Linked DNA regions of Homo sapiens. The protein of the gene in region 2 purifies or fractionates together with the protein of the main gene of each other region. This does not show direct contact. Each region holds a gene or a part of one and is shown on either strand. Other genes may lie near its edges.

Evidence for each region.
Region 1: the proteins of SOWAHB (region 2) and DIAPH1 purify together in Homo sapiens (affinity purification with mass spectrometry; one large-scale study listed by BioGRID and IntAct). This does not show direct contact.

The regions. Positions count from the first base shown.
Region 1 is NC_000005.10:141,577,358-141,581,171, forward strand, and holds part of DIAPH1 (protein diaphanous homolog 1), read right to left. Parts: intron 3,527-3,814; coding exon 3,387-3,526; intron 1,840-3,386; coding exon 1,731-1,839; intron 1,269-1,730; coding exon 1,158-1,268; intron 987-1,157; coding exon 868-986; intron 235-867; coding exon 118-234; intron 1-117. UniProt on the Homo sapiens protein: Actin nucleation and elongation factor required for the assembly of F-actin structures, such as actin cables and stress fibers. Binds to the barbed end of the actin filament and slows down actin polymerization and depolymerization.
Region 2 is NC_000004.12:76,895,881-76,899,794, forward strand, and holds the start of SOWAHB (ankyrin repeat domain-containing protein SOWAHB), read right to left. Parts: upstream 2,265-3,914; 5' UTR 1,970-2,264; coding exon 1-1,969.

The DNA.
Region 1 (3,814 bases), on a different chromosome or scaffold from region 2:
CTAATCTTGGGTCTTTGTCTTTACATTTTCCTTTTACAGAACAATCTTTGAATTTAAGGAATTCACTCTCTCCACTTAGGCTCAAATTCAAAACTTCTCATAAGCACAGCATCTTACCTGGCCTCATAGTCATTTCGGACCAAGAGTAAGTGCTGCAGGATGGAAAGGAAGTGTGGCTCTGCCTTTGAATCCTTCACTGTGTTTAAGAGAATCTGAAAGACTTCATTAAAGTCAGTGGAAAAGGGAAATAGGCTAAGGAAAGCAAATATGCAGAAATTATGTTTGACAGGTGGCTTATTTAACTCTTGAAAAAGCTAGGGAAAAGTAGCAAGACACCACTTCCATTCTACTGGCTGTTCTTCCTGTAAACATCACCAGAAACTTTAAGCTTTCTAAAACGTCCTTTAAGGGACCAGTGAATTGGGTGGTACTATACACACAGAGGATTCCTAGTAAGTACTTGGCTTGAAGATCAGGCAGTAGACAGAAAATAAGAGGTAACTGCCTCAAAGTCACTTACTGAAAATATTAACAGGTAACTAAATTACTCCCTCTGTCAGTCCAAACATCTCTAAAAGCCAGTTCTACATCTTAGTAAGCTAAGCTATCACATTCTAGGAAGTTTACACTGATTTTGATGGCTTCCATGCTCAACAACCCTCAGATCACCTTTACTGACTTCCCTGATCTATGATAAGCTAAGTAAAGCCAGCGCAATAAAAATACACCTGCCTTATTTAATGAGAAGACACATAAGCCTGATGCTCTGTTCTGAGTCATCATCTCCCAAACCATTCCACACAGGGATCAGGGAACTAAATACAATGAATGTCTCATCTGCCTTGAACCTAGTCAGCAAAAGGATATTCCATCTCCATGCGAATGTCATCCAGCCGTCCCTTCAGGTCATAGGAATCCTCTTCCCCTTGTTCATCAAACACATTTAGTTGCACTCTCATATCTTCATTTTCAATCTCTCGAAGGTCCTGTCAACAACAAAAGTAGAAGTCAGGGAACCCAAAAGTATCCTCTGTGGTTAGAAACCTAAGCTTTTCAACCTGGTTTTTAATTGAAAACCAGAATTATCCCCGGGATTATTGGGGCTGTAGAGCAAGAAGGAACCAGTCTAGCCTTTCTAATGAAGTGTAATATCTTACCTGCAACACCTGATGTAGCCCCAAACGCATCAGTTCACTTCTGATGTGAACTCGGAAGTCAAGTTCCTCCGCTGGTGTGATGAGAGCATTGATCAGCTGTAGGCATCCAACCTAAAATAAGAAAATTCAGCAGCTATGTCAATGCTAACTCCTGGAGATCAAGAATCCATTTTCTTTACATGCATTCTTAGGTCCCCAATACAACCTGAAAGATACAATACAAAAACTCTAAAGATGACTTTTCTACTATAGCAATGAGACCTGGTTTGAGTACAGATCCGGAGAGCCTAAACTCTAAATGGTTTCAAGGATTTGAGAGTATATGTTATTGTAGGTCTTGGTTTTCCTAGATTGTAAATAGATATCATGCCTTTTTCCATCTCATAATGAGGAAAACAGTTCATTCTTTACCTTCTTAGAAAGAAGGTTAATCATTTTCCCTTCATAACAGATTCTGAAATGTAAAATATATAGTTGGGAGGCACTCCATGTATTTTATTAAAAGGTCAAATGAATTTAAGTCTGTCCATCTTGAATTCTATTCTTGGGCCCAGTTTCAGGGGATATACATGCCTTCAGTGCAATAGTGGTTCCACTTTTTAATCCATCCAGCAGCGGCTGGAAACGTTCCACTTCATCCATCTCAGCTCTTTCTGTCATTGCCTCCAAAACCCTTTCATTCCTGCCCAAGAGAAAGGAAACGGAGAGAACTTTCCAGGTACTGTGACACGGACACGTATAATGAGTAAATTACACAGGGGCACAGACCGATTAGGAAACAGGACATTATCAGTGTTCCGGATTTCTCACATTATTATTCTCACCACTCAGTTTCCAGAAACTGCTGAAAGCTAAGGACCATCTCTTCAGGGAAATGCATTCCCTACAATCCATCCCTAGGCTCCTGTCCATAAATACCAAATCAAGTCCCCTATTCAATGAAGTATAAATTGATACAACTTTTGGAGGGGCATTTAACAGTACTAATCAATTTCTCATGCATGTAACATATAGTCTACTTCTAGAAATGTATCCAACATATGGGCATAAATGTGAAAGAAGATATGCACAAGGATGTTCACTGCAGTATCATTTGTAAAAATGATCACCTAGAACAGATAGTGAAATCTGCTTTAAAAAATATCTGTAAGTTGGCTGGGCGCAGTGGCTCACGCTTGTAATCCTAGCACTTTGGGAGGCCGAGGCGGGCGGATCACAAGGTCAGGAGTTCGAGACCAGCCTGGCCAATAGGGAGAAACCCCATCTCTACTAAAAATACAAAAATTAGCCAGGCGTGGTGGCGGACTCCTGTAGTCCCAGCTACTCGGGAGGCTGAGGAAGGAGAATCGCTTGAACCTGGGAGGAGGAGTTTGCAGTGGGCCGAGATCGCGCCACTGCACTCCAGCCTGGGGAACAGAGCGAGCCTCCGTCTCAAAAAAAAAAAAGGAAAAAAAAAAAATCTGTAAGTCCAGCAACAGGGGAATTGTTAAATAAATTATAGGCCATACATACATGTATATGGAATACTAAATAGCTACTAAAGATAATAAGGTAGATCTGTAAGTACCGACATAGAAGAAATGTCCAAGATCTACTATTAAAAAGAAACAGGTTGAAAAGAATGATTTAGCTTTGGTTAAACCAAATCCCTCTTCAATAATAAAAATCTATCCTATATATGCAGTTAGTTTTATAGGCATAAGTGTCATTCCTCAGCTCTTAAGATACTATCTTTTGCGGTGGCAGATGTCTAGAATCAAGGGAACGCAATATGTTTGTCTATGCTTAGGAAACGTTCTATGAGACTATACCATGCCATTAACAGTCATTCTCTTTGCAGAATAGGATTTGGCAAAGGGATGAGGCAGTTAAATTTTACTTTATATACTTCTATATCGTTTGAGTTTTAAAAATAACATTGTGCCACTTCTGAATTAAAAAAAAAAAGAATAGTAAAAAGAAACCCTCATCCTAGACAATACAGATATTAATGGAGATATAGGAGACATTTTGCTATACCTCTGATGACCAGTGGAACATTCAGGATAGCACCCATCACTTAGGAATTGTTCTTAAATTTTAAGATGCTTAGTGTTCACTTCTGGGAAGAAACACAATCTTACCTAGTATTTATGACCGAGAGGACACCCAACCAACTCAATTGTCCTCTGAACTAAGAGAAAATGATAAAATTGAAAATGGAGAAGAAAAATTATTCCAGTCACATACATGTCCTCTGGCTGCGGTAGAATACAAAGAGCAGAAAGCAGCTTAGCTGCATCAATCATCATGTTGGGAACAGCAGGATCCATGGCTCTGACCAGCAGTAGGATTCCTTCTTCTGTCTCCAACATGGTCTTGATTCCAAACTGGTAGGACCAAGAACAAAGAAAGGAGGCTGAAAGACGAAAGCATCTAACTGGGGGACAAGTTTACGGGTTGTTATGGGTTGAATGGTGTCCTCTTAAATTCCAGTGTTGAAGTCCCAACCCCCAGTACCTCAAAATGTAACCTCATCTGGAAATATACTCATTGCAAATATAATTAGTCAAGCTACAATGAAGTCCTGCTGGGGTAGAAAGGGTCCTTAATCCAATATGACCAGTGTCCTTATAAAAAGAGGAAATTTGGATATGGATACATACAGAGGGAGAACA
Region 2 (3,914 bases):
CCTTCTTTGCTCCAGACACCAAGTCCTGAAGGGCCCTGAGGTCACCATGTTTGGCTATCCAGTGCAACGCAGTGTACCCAGTCAAAAAGTCTTTGTGCAAGGCCAGTTGAGGGTCCTCCCAGAACAAAGTCCACACCTGAATCCAGGAGCCACTGGCAAGCTTCACAATCCACTCATGCTCCCTGGCATCTAGTGGAACCAGGGATGATTTGTGCTCAGAAGTTCTGTGGGGGGCCAAGGCTGCAGACCCCTCCCCACTGGGGACCCACAGGCTGTGTCGCCAACCCCGCTCGGCCACAACAGCCTTAACCTCTGCAAGTTTTAGTGATAAACCTGCATCAACCCTTGGGCTGGGTGCCGTTCCTGCCTTGGAGGGCTTCCTGGATCGAGGTGGGCGCCGACTTCTTTTCAGCAAGCCCTCATCGAGGTACTCCTCATCAGAGGAGGACAATTTGGCTCTCCCTGCCAGAGAGCTCCTCCTGAGGGACCTCCTTAACTTAGGAACTGGCCAAGGCAAAGGCTTCAGGGGGTGGCCTGCAAGGCCATTAGCCCCTGCAGGGACCTGCTGAGAGATGTGACCATCCCCTCTGTTTCTGAGACCCTGAGGGCTCCGGCTGGGGCTGCCCTCCTTCCGAGATACAGAAAGGCCCCCAGCTGGATTCCTGAGCTTCCCCCTATCTGGGGTTCCCAAGACAACCTGCAGCCCCTCTTCAGAAGCCCCCGGGGAGTCTTTGGGCCCACTGCTGCTCTCCTCACTGCCATCACTCTCCTGGTCCACAAAGTCATCCAGATCTTGGAGGGACAGCTGACAACGAATGCTGCGAAAGACAGTCAATGAAGGGTTCCCCGCCCAGGATTCCCAGGACTCATCCGGAACAACAGGAAAGAGAGAGTGCGAGGAAAGACAGGGGTCTGGCGGCTCTGAATTAGGCTCCGTGGAGCCGGGTTCCAAGGGCAGCTGGAGGAAGTTGTCTGGCAGCACCGACCAGGCGCGGATAGGGCCCTGATCACGGGCCTCGGGCACCTGCGGGTGCCTGGCCACCCACTCTCGAGTGCGCTGCTGCTGCTGCTGCAGGGTCGAATAATGCAGGGAGCTGGGGGTCAGCAGCTCCGGCCGGTCTCCGCGGGGAGCGGGGCCGGGCAGGAGAGCAGGCGGGGAAGCCCTGCTTGTCGCAGCCTCGACGGTGGCGGGAGGCGAGTGAGCCACTGCAGGCACAGGCGCCGGCTCAGCTAGCGCGCCTTCTTCCCGCTCCCTGGAAGCCCCGCGGTCATCCTGGGCAGGCAGAGCCCGTGCCGGCTTCTCCTCCGCGGTGGCCGAGTGCGGGAGTGCGCCGAGCTCTCCCGGCAGTACAGCCAGGTTGTTCTGGAGGCATTCCCAGCAGCAGCGGCCCTGCGTCTTCGCCGCCGCGCAGCTCGCTCTCGCCTGGGCCCCTGCCGCTGCAGCTGCGGGCACCGGCGGCCTCTGTCCGGGACTGCCCTTCGATCCGCCGCCCTTCCCGGGCGCCCTACGGGAGTCGCTGCCCGGGAGTCCATTGCAAGCTGCGTCGGCGGCTCTGGCTGCTGCACCTGCTGGCTCCTCCTCCGGCTCCTTCTCGCGCCGCCGCCGCCTGGGCTGCTGCTGGGGCGGCTCCCCCCGGCGCGCGCCTCGCGGGGAGCAGGGCGCAGCTCCCCCTGCACTGGGGGCGGCCGCGGGCGGCTCGCGGGGTCGCTGCAGCCCCTCCTCCCCCAAAAGGTCCCTGTATCTCCTCTTGAGCACCACGTACTTGGTGCCGTCGGGGTCCTGGCGCACTGCGGCGACCGAGTTGACGAAGCCCTTGAAGAGCTCGCGGCGGTGCTGGTGCTGGCTGGGGGACGCGTCGGGGTCTCGGAGAAAGCTCTTGAAGTGGCTCAGCAAGGCAGCGTTGGTCACGCGGCCCCCAGCCTGGCACAGAAAGTCCAGTAGTGCCTCCTGGCTCAGCTCTCGGGCCATCGCTGCCTTGTCCTCCGCCCCAGAGGTGTCTGAGTCTCGCCCTCCCGGGGCTCTCCCCAGCCAGAGGAAACCCTGGCCGGGCGAGTGTCACCTGCGCCCGGGGCGGCACTAGCCGCCCCCATCAGCCGCGGAGGCCAGCGCTGCCCGCAGCCCGTGAGCGCGCCAGGAGGGCCGTGGGTCCCCTCCGGGTGGCCCCAAGGCTGAGTCCCCGCGGCAGTCTGCGTGAGAGAGGGCGGCTCCGAGGCCGCCCCTGCGCGACTCTAGCCTCTCGCAACGAGTCCTCACAGCGAAAGTTCCCGGGATAGGGCCGAGTCGGTTTCACCTGCGCCCTGGCGGCACCTCCTCCCTGCCTCTGGGGGAAGGGTCAGGCCCGCCTCCTCGTGTCCCTCCGCCCCCTGAGGTCTCCCCCACCCCCTGCCACCCATCCCAGAAGAGTCAGGCCGGAGAGCCAGCCGGTAGGTGAGGTTGGCGGCGAACCGAGCCGGCAGCGAACTGCTCTGCGGCCGGGGAAGTGGAAGGCAGGTAGGCGACCGGCCGTTCCTCTAAGTCTCCGCCACGCAGGAAACAAAAGCGATAGAAGGTCCGTTCCTGTCCTCCGGTGCTTTGATGAGTTCAGGCTGAAGCCGATGGGGGAGGAGGAGAAGCTGCAAGTTAACAGGCAATCTGAGTTATCTTTCTTTATTAACGCTGTAGAGGAGTACTTCAGATTTCTCGAGGCTGTATTGAGGTCCGCAAAACTCACTTTGCATCCAAACTAAATTTTTCTTAATATAGAAATACTTTCTGGGCCGCTTCTCCGGCGCCCCCTCCAAGGGGTCCGAATACATCCAAGTCTATACTGAAAAGAGAAATCACTCTGAAAATTACTACTGGGCAATATTGGTTTGGGACTTTTTCTTTCATACTTGTCTTTCCTTCATACTTGTCTCACATTAAGGTGCTGGAAAAAAAAAATCACTTTGATAGCTTCTTGCCCCCGGCGGCTAAAATGAACTAGGAATTATGTCTCGCCAGTTAAGGTATTTGATGTGTAGCATTAGTTTGCTTTTATTTACTCTAAAATTTGTGAACAGCAGAGATTTGTACAGTGTTTTGTATTGGCTTGGTGAAGTGCTTCCTTTCAGAATGTAAGGTTCAAAATGCAGACTAGAGCTGTCTTTAACAGCACCTTTTCCCCCTAACAGCTGGGATCCCTCTTCCTTTTTCTCTCTCCACATGTTGACCCTTCTGTCTTTGATGTGAGATCCTGGATGTCCCTCACTGTTCCTTATCAGTCCTGTTGACATGCCTGAGATAGTTTTCACTGTCATTATCTCTTTACCTGTTTTAGTTCCAAGCCTTCTCTCATTCTTTTCTTTAACTTGGCCTTCCCATTTCTTTCTGTTACACGACATCCTTGTTTACCTTCGGCCTCTACTGACAGGAAATATGTCTGTTTCTCAGATCCTCTCATGTCCACTGTATTTCCCATTCAAAAACCTCGATTTTCTCCTTCCCTGTAATTTGCCTCTCTTTTCTCATGGACTCTTCTCATCTTTTCACTTTTCCTTTTGCTCTTCTATTTCTGATTACTCATAGTTCCTATACTTCTCGCCAAGAAAGAGTATTGAAAGTATGTGTGTTGGCCCTACAATTGTTGACAAAGACATGTTTTAGCATGGACCAATCTTAGTGACTGCCCTATAGACCACATTAACTGAGCTTGATTTTAAATCCCCAAAAATACCCTAGCACTTTTCCAGGAATGAATCTTTGGTTTTACATTATCTAGGTCAGAAAAAAAGAACTGGAAACATTTTTGTCTATTTTTGGCATTTTCTAGGATCCAAACCCAATACTGGGTTGAGAGAGGGATAGTGGTTTTCACTGATGTCTCTACATAACATCAAGCCTTTAGGATAGTTTTTAAAATTAAGGTTTTGTATTAAATTTCAGCTTTCTTTTG